Regions from separate parts of the Homo sapiens genome. Here region 2 is linked to region 1. Evidence: fine-mapped expression QTL. Tissue or cell type: whole blood. Region 1 holds a variant in brackets; the other region holds the start of a gene. All regions are shown on one strand. Distances are from middle to middle.

Evidence for each region. PIP is the estimated chance that this variant, and not a neighbour inherited with it, causes the effect.
Region 2: RERE starts here. The variant in region 1 is fine-mapped to the expression of RERE in whole blood (INTERVAL, PIP 0.91).

The regions. Positions count from the first base shown.
Region 1 is chr1:8,356,008-8,364,110 of GRCh38, reverse strand. RERE (arginine-glutamic acid dipeptide repeats) reads left to right here. Exons shown (of 23, transcript NM_001042681.2): 15 at 1-55; 16 at 1,267-1,428; 17 at 2,235-2,348; 18 at 2,621-3,999; 19 at 4,125-4,347; 20 at 5,195-5,915; 21 at 7,865-8,011. Among named protein-coding and RNA genes, the nearest start is that of SLC45A1, 42 kb to the right of the region's middle. RefSeq lists enhancers at 3,873-4,372, 4,373-4,874. The variant G/A (reference allele first, on the strand shown) is at 3,079.
Region 2 is chr1:8,812,846-8,820,944 of GRCh38, reverse strand. It overlaps RERE (arginine-glutamic acid dipeptide repeats), which reads left to right and starts at 3,305. Exons shown (of 23, transcript NM_001042681.2): 1 at 3,305-3,785. RefSeq lists silencers at 2,768-2,997, 3,098-3,397, 3,648-3,707, 6,601-6,895 and an enhancer at 3,061-3,355.

The sequences.
Region 1 (8,103 bases):
GGATGATGGGCTCAGTGGGAAGCATAGCATGAGGACACGGCGGAGTCGGGGCTCGGTGAGTCCCCTGGGGCCATGGGGCTCCTGGCAACTTCTTCAGTTTCCTGGGATGTGTGGGGGCTTGAGCCTCCCAGGGGGAGGAAGCGAAAGTCTTGTTTACCAGACAAAGTCCTGGAGGGGAGCTGCTTTGCCCGAGGCGGTAGCTTGCCTGTGGGCTGGGAAGAGTTCTCTGTTCTCTCCTTCGAGGGGCCCCAGGGTGGCATCCTGCTCTGGGTTTTGTAGCAAGCTCTTAGCTTCTGGCTCAGTGCAGGCTCTCCAAGGCCCCTCTTGCTCTCCAAGGCTGCTGCTTGTGGTGTCACTTCCATTGTATCAAATCTCTGCTATTTTAAACTTGCAGGCTCTTTTGTGTTAGTGTGTTTGTGATTTTTTTTAAATGTTTGATCCCGTTTTGGAAACTTCCGATACATTTTTCTGCTCACTGCATAGCTCCTCCCATAAAGAGACTTTGTTTCCTAGGTTGGAAATGTGCCAGGGACTTTGGGAGAGGCTTTTTCCAGGTTTGGGGCTGAGGGTACTGACAGGGTCTTTCCCTTCAGCCTCCCTTATGGCCCCTTCTGGCAGGTGGGTGGGACCATCCACTTTCCTCTGCCCCTTGTATGCCGTTGAGGCTGCTGGCAGCCCGGCCCCCGCTCACTCAGAAGGGAGCAGGTCAACCAGCCAGAACCATTGTCTCCTGATCTCTTCTGAGCCCTCATGGCTTTGCAGAAACATGCTGAAGCGCTTGGCGGCTTGGGGAGCTGAGCTGCTTTACTTGACAGCTTCATCTCTTTGGGTCACTTCCTGTCCTGTCAGATTAAATCCACAAGTGTTTGATTTCATTTGGTTTGGTTGGGAGAATGGACGGTTATGAGGAATAAACAGAAAGGGTGTAGGGTGCTTTAAAGATGGCCCCAGGCGACTTTCTGCCGCTCAGAAAGTGTGGTTCATTTCCAGCACACGTTGTTCAGGACAGTCCCTTGGGATGAGTGCTTTAGGTTTGAGAACCGCCCTCTGGCGTGAGCCCACTGATTTCCCCACCTCTTCCCTGAGCTCCACACCGACCTTCATGCAGCCAGGGACAGGCAGGGCGGCCTGTTGTTTGCCAAGGTCTGGGATTTGCTGAGAGGCTGATAGGGTGTGCCTTCAGGCTTCTGCCTGTGGGTTGGGCTCAGGTGGGTCCACATGGGGACTGGGAATCTGGTGTCACCAGTCTTCGGTTTGGGTGGGCAGATGTCGACACTACGCAGTGGTCGGAAGAAGCAGCCAGCCAGCCCTGATGGTCGCACCTCACCCATCAATGAAGACATCCGCTCCAGCGGCCGGAACTCCCCCAGCGCTGCCAGTACCTCCAGCAATGACAGTAAAGCAGAGACAGTGAAGAAGTCGGCCAAGGTCAGGTGCTGGGGGGATAGTAGGGCCTACTCTGTCCCTCCCTCACATTAAAACTGGTTTGCTGGTATTCGTGATCAGCTCCCTCAGACACGAGGATGCAGCTCATTCATGGAGCCTGTCTGGACACCAGCATTGTCCTGGCCTAGGGGCTGCAGACCGAAGGCTGGGGGCCTAGAGAAGGGGGCTCGAGCACCAACTCTTGGGGGCCACCTCTGCCTCAAGCTTCCCAAGTTCTCAGAAAGTGTGGGGAGTGGTTAGAACGGCTCCCTCCAGAGCCAAGTACAGTCCTCCCTTGGTATCCATTAGAGATTGGCTCCAGAGCCTCCACCGCCCAGGATACCAAAATCCACAGGTGCTCAAATCTCATATACATCGACACATGGTTTGCATGTGACCAGTCACATCCTCCTGTAGACTCTAAATCATCCCTAGGTTACTTCTACTGCCCAGTGCAATGTAAATGCAGTTTAAACAGTGGTTCCACTGTCTAGTTCAGGAGATAATGACAAGAAAACATTGTGTGCACGTTCAGTATAGATGTAACCATCACAGTCCTGCCTACATTTTCAGTCCATGGTTGCTTGAATCTGAGGATGCAAACCCACAGGTGCAGAGGGCTGGCTCTCATTCCCACCCCCAGATACGTGTTCCTTCTTGGCCCCAGTTGACCCTTCTAGAGCTTTTTGCTCCTGGAGATGGAACTCAGAATGAGGGAGCAAAGTGTCTGCAAACCGTCATTTCCTTGCTGAGGCTGATGGGATGGTCTCCCTTGGCCTGATTGCTCCTTGTGGGCTTTTCCCCTGCAGAAGGTGAAGGAGGAAGCCTCTTCCCCTCTTAAGAGTAACAAACGCCAGCGGGAGAAGGTGGCCTCTGATACGGAGGAGGCTGACAGGACCAGCTCCAAGAAGACAAAAACGCAGGTGAGGTTTGCTGCTGAGCCTTGCTGAGTAAAGCTAATGCTTCTTCAGAAGCCCCCAGCCGGGGTTCTCCCTAGTTGGTGGCCGTGCCCTGTCTCCTAGGGTGGGGCTGGAGTGGCCTTTGACACTGGCTGGGTCAGGGCACGACCTGTGGTCCCGGAGCCAAGCTTGCTGCTTCATCTGCACAAACATTACTGTGTGTCCGGCACTGGTGGTGCAGAGCAGACAGGGCTCTGCCCTCCTGGGACTTCCATCCTTCCCTTCTCTGACTCCAGGAGATCAGCAGGCCCAACTCGCCATCTGAAGGTGAGGGAGAGAGTTCAGACAGTCGCAGCGTCAACGATGAGGGTAGCAGTGACCCCAAAGACATCGACCAGGACAATCGCAGCACGTCCCCGAGCATCCCCAGCCCCCAGGACAATGAGAGTGACTCGGACTCGTCAGCCCAGCAGCAGATGCTGCAGGCCCAGCCCCCAGCCTTGCAGGCTCCCACTGGGGTCACCCCAGCTCCCTCCTCAGCTCCTCCAGGGACCCCTCAGCTGCCCACGCCAGGGCCCACGCCCTCTGCCACTGCAGTTCCCCCACAGGGCTCCCCCACGGCCTCCCAGGCCCCTAACCAGCCACAGGCTCCCACAGCGCCTGTTCCCCACACCCACATCCAACAGGCACCGGCCTTGCACCCCCAGCGGCCGCCCTCACCGCATCCCCCGCCGCATCCCTCGCCACATCCCCC[G/A]CTGCAGCCTCTGACTGGGTCGGCGGGCCAGCCTTCTGCACCCTCTCATGCCCAGCCCCCACTGCACGGTCAGGGCCCACCCGGCCCTCACAGCCTGCAGGCTGGGCCCCTGCTGCAGCACCCAGGCCCCCCACAGCCCTTTGGCCTCCCTCCCCAGGCCTCCCAAGGCCAGGCCCCTCTGGGGACCTCCCCAGCAGCAGCGTACCCTCACACCTCCCTGCAGCTGCCAGCCTCTCAGTCAGCGCTGCAGTCCCAACAGCCTCCACGGGAGCAGCCCCTGCCACCAGCGCCCTTGGCCATGCCCCACATCAAGCCCCCGCCTACCACTCCCATCCCCCAGCTGCCGGCGCCACAGGCCCACAAGCACCCTCCCCACCTCTCGGGGCCCTCACCCTTCTCCATGAATGCCAACCTGCCTCCCCCTCCAGCCCTGAAGCCCCTGAGCTCCCTGTCCACACATCACCCCCCGTCGGCTCACCCCCCACCCCTGCAACTCATGCCTCAGAGCCAGCCATTGCCCTCCTCGCCCGCCCAGCCCCCCGGGCTGACCCAGAGCCAGAACCTGCCCCCGCCCCCTGCCTCCCACCCCCCTACAGGCCTCCACCAGGTGGCCCCCCAACCCCCGTTTGCTCAGCACCCCTTTGTCCCTGGAGGCCCTCCTCCCATCACCCCTCCGACCTGCCCCTCCACCTCTACCCCACCGGCGGGACCTGGCACCTCGGCCCAGCCACCCTGCTCTGGTGCGGCGGCTTCAGGAGGCAGCATAGCGGGGGGGTCGTCCTGCCCACTCCCCACCGTCCAGATCAAGGAGGAGGCTCTGGACGACGCTGAGGAGCCTGAGAGCCCCCCTCCCCCACCAAGGAGCCCGTCCCCGGAGCCCACTGTGGTGGACACCCCCAGTCACGCCAGCCAGTCAGCTAGGTACGCTTCCTAGGGCTCCAGGACGGGTCAGGCACAGGTGGGCTGGTGGGGGCAAGTTCTGGTGGGAGGGAGGGCCGGGGTGGGTCTCGGCAGGAGCTCCCAGCAAGATCTGTGGCTTTTCTCAGGTTCTACAAACACCTGGACCGGGGCTACAACTCGTGTGCCCGGACAGACCTGTACTTCATGCCTCTGGCCGGGTCCAAGCTGGCCAAGAAGAGGGAGGAGGCCATTGAGAAGGCCAAGCGCGAGGCTGAGCAGAAAGCCCGAGAGGAGCGAGAGCGGGAGAAGGAGAAGGAGAAGGAGCGGGAGCGGGAGCGAGAGCGGGAGCGCGAGGCAGAGCGGGCGGCTGTGAGTCCAGGGTTGGCGAGGTGTGACGGGGGGCGCTGGTCCATCCTGCGCCTGGGAGCCACGCTGGGCCACCGAGCTCTGCCCTTGGCTGCCTGACTCGGCCTCCTGGCAGCTAGAGGGTTGGGTGCTATTTACACCCTGTCTCCACACCTCTGACGGGTGCTGCACATCCGAAGCTGCCGGGGTAACTGCGCATGGCAGGTCTAGGCTGACTCCCAGCAGTGACTGTGCGTCCTCCTACCGGAGGGCCTTCGAGGAAAGGGCCTGTCCTTCTCCTGCAGCCTTTGGGTTCATAACTTCTAAGTAATTTGAAGGAGTCGGGGAGAAGCACAAGGGGGCGCCTTGAGAGAAGACCTGAGCACTCAGGCGATAAGCAGGCTGCGAGGGGCCTCTCCAGCTGCCCTGCCTTTGTGGCCCCCTCGTGGGCTGGGTGCTGTGGTGGTGGCCAGCTCTCTGCTGTCGCGGGGAGGAAAGGGCAGCCAACCCAGGAAGTGGCATGAGGGACTGCCAGTGAGGTTCCTGGCCTGCTGGGCTCACTCACCCATGCCCCCCAGCTGTCACTCCCAGACACAACCCTCACACGTAGACAACCCATGCATGAGCTTAGTCTCACAGGGACACATTCCCATCTGGGCCTGAGGGGAGCTGCGGGCACAGGTGAGCCCGACCCTGTGGGGCCTGGACTGCATCCTGGTGTCAGGCCAAGGCAGGGCCGGGTCTCCGTGGAGGGACCAGGTTGGCCTGTCAGAGCAGGCCAGGAGCAGGACCAGGCCCACCTCCGCAGTGTGGACCAAGCGGAGACCCCAGGCGCTCGGGGGACCCCTCACGCTTTCTTTTCCTTCTGCAGAAGGCGTCCAGCTCAGCGCATGAAGGTCGCCTCAGTGACCCACAGCTCAGTGGTCCTGGCCACATGCGGCCATCCTTCGAGCCACCACCAACCACCATTGCTGCTGTGCCCCCCTACATCGGGCCCGACACACCTGCCCTTCGGACTCTGAGCGAGTACGCCCGGCCCCACGTCATGTCGCCCACCAACCGCAACCACCCCTTCTACATGCCCCTTAACCCCACGGACCCCCTGCTGGCCTACCACATGCCTGGCCTCTACAACGTCGACCCCACCATCCGCGAGCGGGAGCTCCGGGAGCGGGAGATCCGAGAGCGGGAGATCCGAGAGCGGGAGCTGCGGGAGAGGATGAAGCCGGGCTTCGAGGTGAAGCCCCCAGAGCTGGACCCCCTGCACCCAGCCGCCAACCCCATGGAGCACTTTGCCCGGCACAGCGCCCTCACCATCCCCCCGACCGCCGGGCCCCACCCTTTTGCTTCTTTCCACCCGGGCCTGAACCCCTTGGAGAGGGAGAGACTGGCCCTGGCGGGCCCCCAGCTGCGGCCCGAGATGAGCTACCCTGACAGACTGGCAGCCGAGCGTATCCACGCAGAGCGCATGGCATCGCTGACCAGCGATCCCCTGGCCCGACTGCAGATGTTCAACGTGACTCCGCACCATCACCAGCACTCTCACATTCACTCCCACCTCCACCTCCACCAGCAGGACCCCCTCCACCAAGGTGCGTGCCCCAGCGTGGCAGGTGGGACAGAGGCACGGGGAGGGGTGCAGAGCCTGATGAGTGACAGTCACCATCCAGGAGCGGAAACTGTTCTTTTCTGAACAGATCCCTCATCCCTGGCAGATCTTAGAAGAGCTCAGCATCCACTACCGTCATGGTTTTGCTGTATCGCAGTCTCTCCTCGGCCCCGCAGCTCTCCAGAACTGCAAGGCCTCAGACAGCTGCAGCACACGGGTGAAGCCTGGGTTCTTGGCCCTGTGCCTGGGATGGAGGGAAGTGGCCTAGGCCCACAGGGCAGGGTAAGGGCAGCAGAGCAGTGTCATGTGGCCTTTGGAGCCAAGGAACGTACAGATAAGGCACTGGGCTACTCAAGGGTGGCTGAGGGAGAATGAAAAGCACAGTCCTCTTCCCTTGAGGAGCGAGGCTGGGCAGGCCTCCTGCTGGCTTTGGCTGAGTTTTCCGAGCTGACCCACCTGGCCAGGGCTGCTCAGTCCTGTCCACCCTGGAAGTAGGAGCTCCTTAAGGCCACTCATTGACCAGCTGTGGAGAGGCTGCTCTGAGGCAGAGGCAGGCCCAGCTGGCATCCTCACTCCCTCTGCAGCCTGGTGAGATGGCGCAGGGGGTGGCTACTGTGCTTACGAGGAGGCAGGTTCACCTGCTCCATGGGACTTGGAGTACAGGTCCTGTGGGACAGCCTACGTGCAGGGCTTCCTCACTGGCCACCCTCCAGTGTGGGGCAGGATGACTGATAGAGCAGGGCCCAGAGGGAGGGCGGGGAGCCACCTTGCTTGGAGGCACCAGGCGCCTCCCCTGCCCCTGTACCCAGTCCTGACATGGGAGAGCACTCACCATTGCCGTCCTCATATCTGAAGCTCTGTTGGCACCTGGTGTAGACCTTACAAGCCTCAGTATGAGCAGTGTTGAGGACAGGTAGTCATTTGTTCATTCATGCATCATTCATTCAGCAAGTGTTTACTGAACCCCTGGAATGTGCCAGGCACAGTTGTAGGTGCTGGCAGAACCCCTGTCCACATTTACCTTCCAGTTTGGGGAGATAGTTGAAAGACGTGTGCCACGTTGTGAGAGGCAGAAAGTATATGTTCTGGAAAAAAATAAATCCAGAAGAGGGGATCAGGAGAGCTGGGCGCAGGGGCAGTATGGCGGTTTCGAGAAGGCCGTCAGGAGAGGTCCGCTGAGGAGGTAGCAGAAACATGGAGGAGATGAAAGGGCAAGCTGTGGGAAATCGGGGCAAGAGCAGCCACAGAGGCAGAGCGGGGGCTCCCAATCTTCCAGGGACCCCAGGGCAGCATGGCTGGAGGTGGCAACCCTGAAATCCCTGCCAGCGCCTGTGTTGGCTGGAGCTGGGAGATAGGAGGTGAGGGCAGGAGGTGGTGCAGTGAGGTCAGATCAAGGCAACGTTCTGAAGGGAGAGACGCAAGATTTGTGCCAGCAGAGAGGAGAGGGCAGTGCTGTGCCAGGTCCCCATTCTGCGCCACCCACTCTGCTGGCCTCCTTTAGGTTCTGCGAGTGAAGAGCAGGGAGACAGCCCTGGGCAGGGGGTGCCAGCCCAACACCCACTGGCGCAAGGCTGTGTGTTCCTGTGACCTGACAGGCAGAGGGCAGGCCCAGGTGGCCGGCGAGAGGGACCCTGCTGATCCCGGGTCCTCGACAAAACTGGCCTGGGATTGCCTGTTAGGGGCACTCCACAAGCGGACGAGGGAGTGCCTGCATCAGCGGTGGGCTCGTCACTTCTCTCGGCCTCTGGAGCTCTTGCTGAAGGTGGAGGCAGCCACTTTGGGGCAGGGCCACCTGTAGCCAGGTGGTGCATCCAGCCCTGGTGACCAGGAGCCATCCTGGGTGAGGAGGAAGTCATCGGTCATTCCAGCCAAGGGGGACAAACATTGAAGAGCTGCACACCGCCTCCATCTGGCGTTTTGTCCTTTCCTTAGGTTCAGCAGGCCCCGTTCACCCGCTGGTCGACCCCCTGACTGCCGGTCCCCACCTGGCTCGCTTCCCCTACCCGCCTGGCACTCTCCCCAACCCTCTGCTTGGACAGCCCCCACACGAGCACGAGATGCTTCGCCACCCAGTTTTCGGTAAGACTTCCCCTCCAGGAGGGGCGGGGAGGCCGTGTGAGGGTTGGGTTGGGGTCTGGTCTGCTGTCTTCATTCATTACTCATTCATTCAT
Region 2 (8,099 bases), 460 kb before region 1:
TATGAATCTAGTGGGTGTGTGTTGTTGTTTTTTGTTTCCCCATATAGCTATCTTGTTGTCCCAATATCATTTATTAAATAATCCCCATTTTCCATCTTCCTTTAATACAGCTCTGATGTGATCTCTGTATATTTAAAAAAAAATCACTTCTTACCTGTAGTAAGATACATAAAATAACTAAAAAAAGTCCTTGATATTTTCAGATTCAATAACTACTTTATTTACTTAATTCCCACTTAAAAATATTGCTGAAAAGAGAATAAGGAAACTTTTAAAAATTTAATATGGGAAAAAAATCCAAGTCGGTATTTTACGTCTTTAATCTTCAGCTAGTTCTTTAACTTCCGTAAGCCCCAGTTCCTTGACTTTTAAAATGGAGATAATAAGCCGGGAGCAGTGGCTCACGCCTGTAATCCCAGCATTTTGGGAGGCTGAGGCGGGCGGATCATCTGAGGTTGGGAGTTCGAGACCAGCCTGACCAACATGGAAAAACCCTGTCTCTACTAAAAATACAAAATTAGCTGGGCATGGTGGCACATGCCTGTAATCCCAGCTGCTCAGGAGGCTGAGGCAGGAAAATCGCTTAAACCCGGGGGTCAGAGGTTGCGGTGATCTGAGATCGCGCCATTGCACTCCAGCCTGGGCAACAAGATCGAAACTGTCTCAAAAAAAAAAAAAAAAAAAAAAAGAGATAATAATAATACACTTCATGGGGAGAAAAAGTGGGCTAAAGAATGTAACATGTTTCTTAGGGCACTGGGAACATAAGCTTTCAATCAATAGTTTAATAGTTGTTCTTAACGATGAAGATTATTTTACTGCATTATCAGCTTCTCAGATCCTTGGAAGGAGGTCCAGTACTCTCCGGCTTTATGGCTGGACCACAATTCTTTCGTGGGACTGTTACAGTTAAATGGGTTTAGTTTGCTAATTTTGTGGTCTGATACCATATATTATGCTTTGTAACTATGTGGCATTTCTGGACTTCTAAATTTACATTTTTATGGATAAATGAAAGTGACGGCCAATCCCTAATACCATAGTAAATGTTATTTCCTAACGTGGAGAGCCTCTCTCCTCCCTGCTGGATGGCAGTGCATTGTCCATTTGTCTACCACAGAGCTGAATCTTTATTAGAAATAATGCTCCTGTAAGTTTCGAGACCAGCCTGGGCAACATAGTGAACCTCCATCTCTACTAAAATTACAAAAGTTAGTTGGGTGTGGCGGCACACACCTGTAATTTCAGCTACTCAGGAGGCTGAGGCAGGAGAATCGCTTCAACCGAGGAGGTGGAGGTTGCAGTGAGCTGAGATCGTGCCACTGCACTCCAGCCTGGGCAACAGAGCGAGACTCTGTCTCAAAAAAAAAAAAAAGAAAAAAAAGAAAGAATGCTCCTGTAGATAGAGATTTTGATGGAAAGTGAAGCCATCTAACTGATATACTTTATCCCTCATCATTTCCAAACAGGAAGTCAGATAGTCCTATCCATATCTAGAATGTTGGAAGCAGTTTATTGAATTTATTAGGTTTTAAAATTCAGTTCTCACATTATCAGATATATAAAGAGATATTAACTAGTTTCCCCATTTCATAACTCCAGCAAAGAGGATTTTTCTTGCTGAAAGTTACTCAGAAATGTGATGGCAAGGATCTATGGCTTTTTTTTTTTTTTTTAAGATCTCTTGGGTCATGGTCCAATAGTATCTGTTAGTCCAAATTATTCTTTAAAGAATAATTGAATGTGGGCCGGGTGCGGTGGCTCACGCCTGTAATTCCAGCACTTTGGGAGGCTGAGGCGGGCGGATCACCTGAGGTCAGGAGTTCGAGACCAGCCTGACCAACATGGAGAAACCCCATCTCTACTAAAAATACAAAATTAGCTGGGTGTGGTGGCGCATGCCTGTAATCTCAGCTACTCGGGAAGCTGAGGCAGGAGAATCGCTTGAACTGAGGAGGCGGAGGTGGCGGTGAGCCGAGATCGCGCCATTGCACTCCAGCCTGGGCAACAAGAGTGAAACTCCCTCTCAGAAAAAAAAAAAAAATGAATAATTCAATGTGGAAATTATAATCTGAATAGATTTTCCAAGGAGAAAATTATCACTTCTTTTGAAACAGATGAGTGAATTATTTTGTGCTACGTTTTCTACCCCTTATTTTATACGGACCTTAACTCCTTCGGGAAGAGTGTATGGTATAAGGACACCAATAAGCATTTACAGAATATTAACAAACCAACAATAGGTTGATGATTCACCCTGGATTCGTGCCAGGCTCTGTGAAAGAACTCAATAAACATGATGTGCATTTCAAAAACTGCTAATCATAATTGAAATTTCCAAACCCCTCAATCCCATAAATTATATGAACTAGAATATGATCATTTGGCCTGCCCCTACTCCCTTTACAGCATGATAGACCCTGTGATTATCAGGCTTTCGGGAAGTGGGACACAATACTTCATTCTTCAAAGAAAAAGAGGTGATGTTTGGTCTTTTCCTCTTTTTAGATTTTTTTTCACACGTACCTTATAGAGTTGTACACTGCTCTTTCTAAAATCCCTTCTGTACCTGTACAGTCTCTCCTTTATGCCTTCATGACACTTTTTATTCTTTTCAAATAAGCAGTGCGACTTATCACTTTTATTTTTCTTTCTGTAATTCATCTTTTGTCATGTACACTATTTGAAAAATATTACAAGCCGCTCATCAGAATTTCGAAAGAGTCCATATGAGAATGGTTTACACCCACTCTGTAGCCCGCAGCAACATGGATCCGCGTCCTAATGACTGAAAAGGCCAATTAAGACCCGGGTAACAGCAAGATCAACCGGACTTCCCCCCACCCCACCCGGGACCTGCCCGCGCCGCCAGCCCGGCCCAGCCCGGGGGGCGCGGGGGGCGGTACTGGAGCGCGGCGGGCGGCGGAGGAGGGCCGGCCTCGCACTCTCACAAAGACGCGCCCGCGGCGGGAGCCCAGCCCACCGCCTCTGGCCGCCGCCTGCAGCGCGAGCCCTCGAGCCCCGGGCCGCGGCGTTGTCAAGGCTCGGCCTCTCTCCGCCTTCTTCTCTGCTCATTTTATTAAAAAGATTAAAAAAAAAAAAAAAAAAAAAAAAAAAAGGAAAAAGAGATCCCGCCTCCTCCGCCTCCCATTGGCCGGGCCCCCGGCCGCGTCACACCGCGCTGTACCAATGGAGGGGCGCGATACTGCGAGGTGGGCCGGGCCCGAGCGGGGAGTGGGCGGCGGGTCGGTGCAGCAGCTCCGCCGCGGCTCCGCCACCATCGCGGAGGTGCCGCTGTTCCCACAGACGCTCGCGAGCAACCCTCCGCGCTCCGGAGCCTCCTCAGCCTCCCGCACACCCCGAGACGCTCGCCCCGCTGGGCCTCGGTCCCCGCCTCCTCCCCCGTCCTTTTCCCCTCTCTCGCTCCCCACATTGTCTCTGCCTCATTTTCTCTCCTAGTTGAGGATTAAAAAAAAAAAAAAATCACCATCATCCTCAGGGAGCCCCCTCGCCCTCGGAAAACAAAACCAGACATGATCCTGGGCTCCTGCTTCTGAAAGATCTGCCCGACCGAGGAGGAGGGAGCCTAGGTTCAAGTCGCAGGAAAGGTCACGGCAGGGAAGCCCCCTCAGCCCCTCCGCGTCGCCTCCCCGCGGGCCGCCCCTCTCGGCCCTGCGCCCCGCGGCCCCGCAGCCTCCGCGCGGCCTCCCGCCCCATCCCCGCCACTTTCCCCGGAGCTGGGCCGCGAACACCTCACTATTGATGGTGTAGCGCTTTAGGGGAAGGTAAGTGTCCAACTTGCCCGCGCCGGGTCGTGTGCTTTCTTTTTTGGCCCCTCGTCCTGGTGGTCAGAGAGGGTCGGCCGTGAAAGCAGTCACTCGCCCGGGGGGAGGCAGGAAGAAAAGGCTGGGGTCGAAGCCGAAGTCGAGGGGAGTCGGGCGAGGGCAGGGCACTTCTTTGGTCCTGTCCGGGCCAGGTGACCGTTCCTGCGTGCCTTCTGACCCCTGCTCTCTCTTGGCCTCTTATTCATGCTCTTGTTCTACTTGTTTGAGGTTAAACTATTTCATGTGACTACATTATTGGCTGAAACTGGAAGGGAAGGAAGTCAAGGACTGAAACTGTAAATTTCTTGAATGTTTGTGGATTTCGGGGTGCTGGGGGGAGGACTTTATTATTAAAGTATCATTTTCTCATTGGGGGAAGATTTCCTCTTTGTGCTCCCAATCTCTAGTTCTCAGCTGTATGTGATTAGAAAATTATGAAACCCAAAGTCACTTGCAGCAGAATAGAATTCTTACTATCCTGTTTTAGTTCTGCTCTCTGAAGGAGGGTGGCTTCTATTTATTACTAATTTTTAAGATGATGGAAAGATTCGTAGTTTTACATACACGTGTGTATGTGTGTCTGCTAGGAGGGGGGAAAAGTGTTGCAGGCTTCCTTTGAAACTGGTTGCTTGAGAAGTTGTTGAAAGGAAAACAGAATGATTCATTGTTGAATTGTCATTTTCCTCTGTCTCTTTTCCAAGGTTTGCTTACAATTTTTCTGGATTACAGACTTCAAACATTGATTTAAGTAAAATGGGTCCTTGAGAAACTGGGTGCTTTAAATGTTTCAGTATCTGTTGCTTTTTTAAGGTACATTTAGAAAGTAGTTTTGTATGAATCGTGAAATAGCCTTCTTCACAGCGAATTTTTAAACGCAAAAAAAGATAACTAGTAAGAGGGTGAACTTGGTGAATTACAAAATAGACATTTTAATATAGCAGGAATTGATGCATCTAAGATTTGAAACAGTTTTCATAATTGCTTTCCATTTAAAGAGAGACCTTTTTGTCTAGTGTACACTGGTCTTTTTAGTCTCAGTCTGTTGGGGGAGGGGAGAGAAGCTGGATCTGTACAATAATAAAATCATCTTTGGGTTGATATTTTGTTCCATGGATTTGCTTGCTGAGTTAATACTACTGTAAATTATCAACCAGTTTTGATTTTGATGGCCTGGGATGGGTGGAAAGCTGGCTTCCAGCTCTCCCTGTTGTTGTTGAGGTCGAAGGGAAAAGAGGCAGAGGCAGACAGACACACATATACACACACACACACACACATACACACACACACAATACCAAGCTGAGGGCTCATTGTTCTTCCATACACACATTCATTCTCTCTCTCCCATATTTGGGACTAGGTTTGCACAGACAAACACAGCTCTTTTTGGGAGAGAAGAGAGAAGATGGGGGAAGGGAGGGTGCTTTTCTGTTACAGCTTTCTTCCACCCATCTCATGCCTGGCCGTTTTTGCAACCTTGTGAGGCAGAAGAGTGCATTGGAAACTAAAGGACACTCAAAAACATGTTCAGAGACTTCTCTTCTCTCTGCCTCCCTTTATTCCTTTTGCAGCCGTGGTTTCTGCTGCTCTTTCTTTTTTGTATATGTAAAGATAAAATCCCTCTTTATATGTTGTGGCCTTACGTTCAGCTCTCATTGCTTTTGTATTTCTCATTGACCCTGATTTTGTTGGGGACAGTGATTTGTTCACTTGAGTCTTAGTAGTGAATGTGAGCAGAGTCTTTCTAGATAGAAATAGATTTTATTGATTAATATTATAAAGGTTGTATTGAGGTTAATATTTAGCAAGATGATGTTTGCATGTTTTTAGTGGTGTGATGGTTTGATGGTCAGGTTTGCTGGCAATTGAGCTGTCAATGTTGTTTTTGTAAATAAGGGTTATAAGAAAAGATCTGGTTTTCTGTTTAGGGGGCTCCTTTGAATACTGGACAGGGAATAGGCTAGTCCACCTGGGATAAACCCAGCTGTGGCCCAAGGATGGAGGTTGGTGTGAATACATGTGGGTTGCAGAATAGCACCTTCTACTGGTTAATTGTTTGGAAAGATCCAGACGAAGAGGATGGGGGAGGGGATTAATGGCTGAGGCTTAATGATTTTCTTTTAAGCGCAGTTGTTGTGCCTTTCTGCAAATGCCACTTCCCCGAGCTGCTAATACAGATGTCCTTTGACAGGCACGGTTGCATTGAGGCATTATTATGTTACTGGTTGTGCTTCGACATTAATTTGTTCTGTTACCAGAAGTATTTACACTTTGTGACTTCCCAGGACTCCTTTGAATGATACCTTCTCATCTTTTATGAGATAATTTCTCTTGAAATATTAAACCAGAGGGTTTATTTCTGTTCCCAGTATTGGAAACTATATACACCAGCAGTCTTTTAAAAAAGTTTTTAGTATCATTAATAAAAAATCAAATAAACCTACTCTATGGAAAGTAAAATTGTAGCACTGGACAGAGGTTTTTCTTGGGATTTAAACCAGGTAGAGGGGTAGAGGAGGAGTTGAAGGAGGGAAATCTCACTAAAATCGGCAATTTTGCAAATGTAGTGGCCTTGCATTGCAGTAGTGTTGTTTTCAGTAGTCTTATAAAGTCTGATAGGGTGACTTATTGTATGGATTAGATAAAGAATTTAAAATTGGAAGCCAGAGAAAATGTGAAATGAGTGTGTACACAAATTATCATAGAAGAGGGTCAAATTGTTGCCCAAAGGCTTGTAAACTAAGGTGCAGTTTCAGAGATAATCTGCTTAATAAATGTCTCAAAGGATTTTTATTTTCACAAATCCTGGCCCATCTCAGTTGTTCTAATGTAATGAACTATTAGAGAGGTTTGCAGTGGTAAAGGGGACTGGGTGTGTAGGATAAACATCTGTTCCAGACTGACTGCTTCTAGGAATGTGACTTCTGATTCACTTTACTTTCAAAACTTCAAGAGTAATCTCTAAAGTTGTGTATCTTTTACAATGAAATGTGAACAGTTCAAATGTATTATTTTCTCAGTGGGAATGGATTCAGGGGATTTCAGTTCAATATATTCTCCATCAGTGTTTTGTCACAAGGAAACTAGAACTGAGAACCAATTCACAACAAAAAGGTAATCCAAATCAAGAAATAAAATGTACCAGTTACCTTTTCAACTTTGATTTACTGGTCAGTCGAAAAAGCTTTTAAAAAATAGGACAGTAAGGCCTAGTGCGGTGGCTCACGCCTGTAATCCCAGCACTTTGGGAGGCCAAGGCGAGTGGACCACTTGAGGTCAGGAGTTCGAGACCAGCCTGGCCAACATGGTGAAACCTCGTCTCTACTAAAAATACAAAAATTAGCCTGGCACTTTGGCGCGTGGCTGTAATCCCAGCTACTTGGGGGGCTGAGGCACGATAATTGCTTGAACTCAGAGGCAGAGGTTGCAGGGAGCTGAGATTGGCACCACTGTACTCCATCCTGGGTGACACAGCGAGACTCTGTCTAAAAAAAAAAAAAAAAAAAGGAAAAAATAGGATAGTAAACACTGTCAGGTCCTGCAATAATTATGTGTAATACTGAACAGATACTGAACAGAAATGTTCCAGGTGCTGTAAAAACACACATATAAGAATATAATCTGTGCCCTTCTAAAAACCTGTATATGCTGAATATTATCATGGATTTAGTAAGCATTCATTACTTAAAAATTAGTTTCAAATATCAGTGATCAAAAAAAATTTAAGTAGTAAAATAAGTTGGACATACCAAGTTCTTTTGAGAGTAGTATGCTTTCCTACTAAGCTACTTTTGGCAGCTACTTTTGCAGTCGATTTAAAGGTTAAGATAGCAGAAAATTCAAATGTTTAAGTGAGTCATTAGTGTAACCTAGCTGTGAACTTCGTTACACACACATACACACATCCTGAAAGAAAAGCTATTGTTTTACATAATCAGTTTCTGATAATGCTGTGCTCTAGTTAATTACGGGATTTCTTTTTTTACTACCAGGAATTCCTCTTGAATGATATTTAAGTGATTGTTGAATCATATTTGTGTGATTGGTATCCTGATAATTATTCTGAAGTTGAAGCTCTCCTTGTCCTATTTAAGTGTGATTTTGCCGAGCCTTTTGGCTTATGTTTGGTTTCTTGTCTAACAGAGTTATAGTTTGTGTGTGTGTGTGTTTTTTTTTTAAATAATGGAGGAGAAATGAGCATTTTAAATATGTGTTAGAACATTGTTAAGATTGCATAGGCCAATTTAATGAACATTTGAACACAACTCAAGTTCA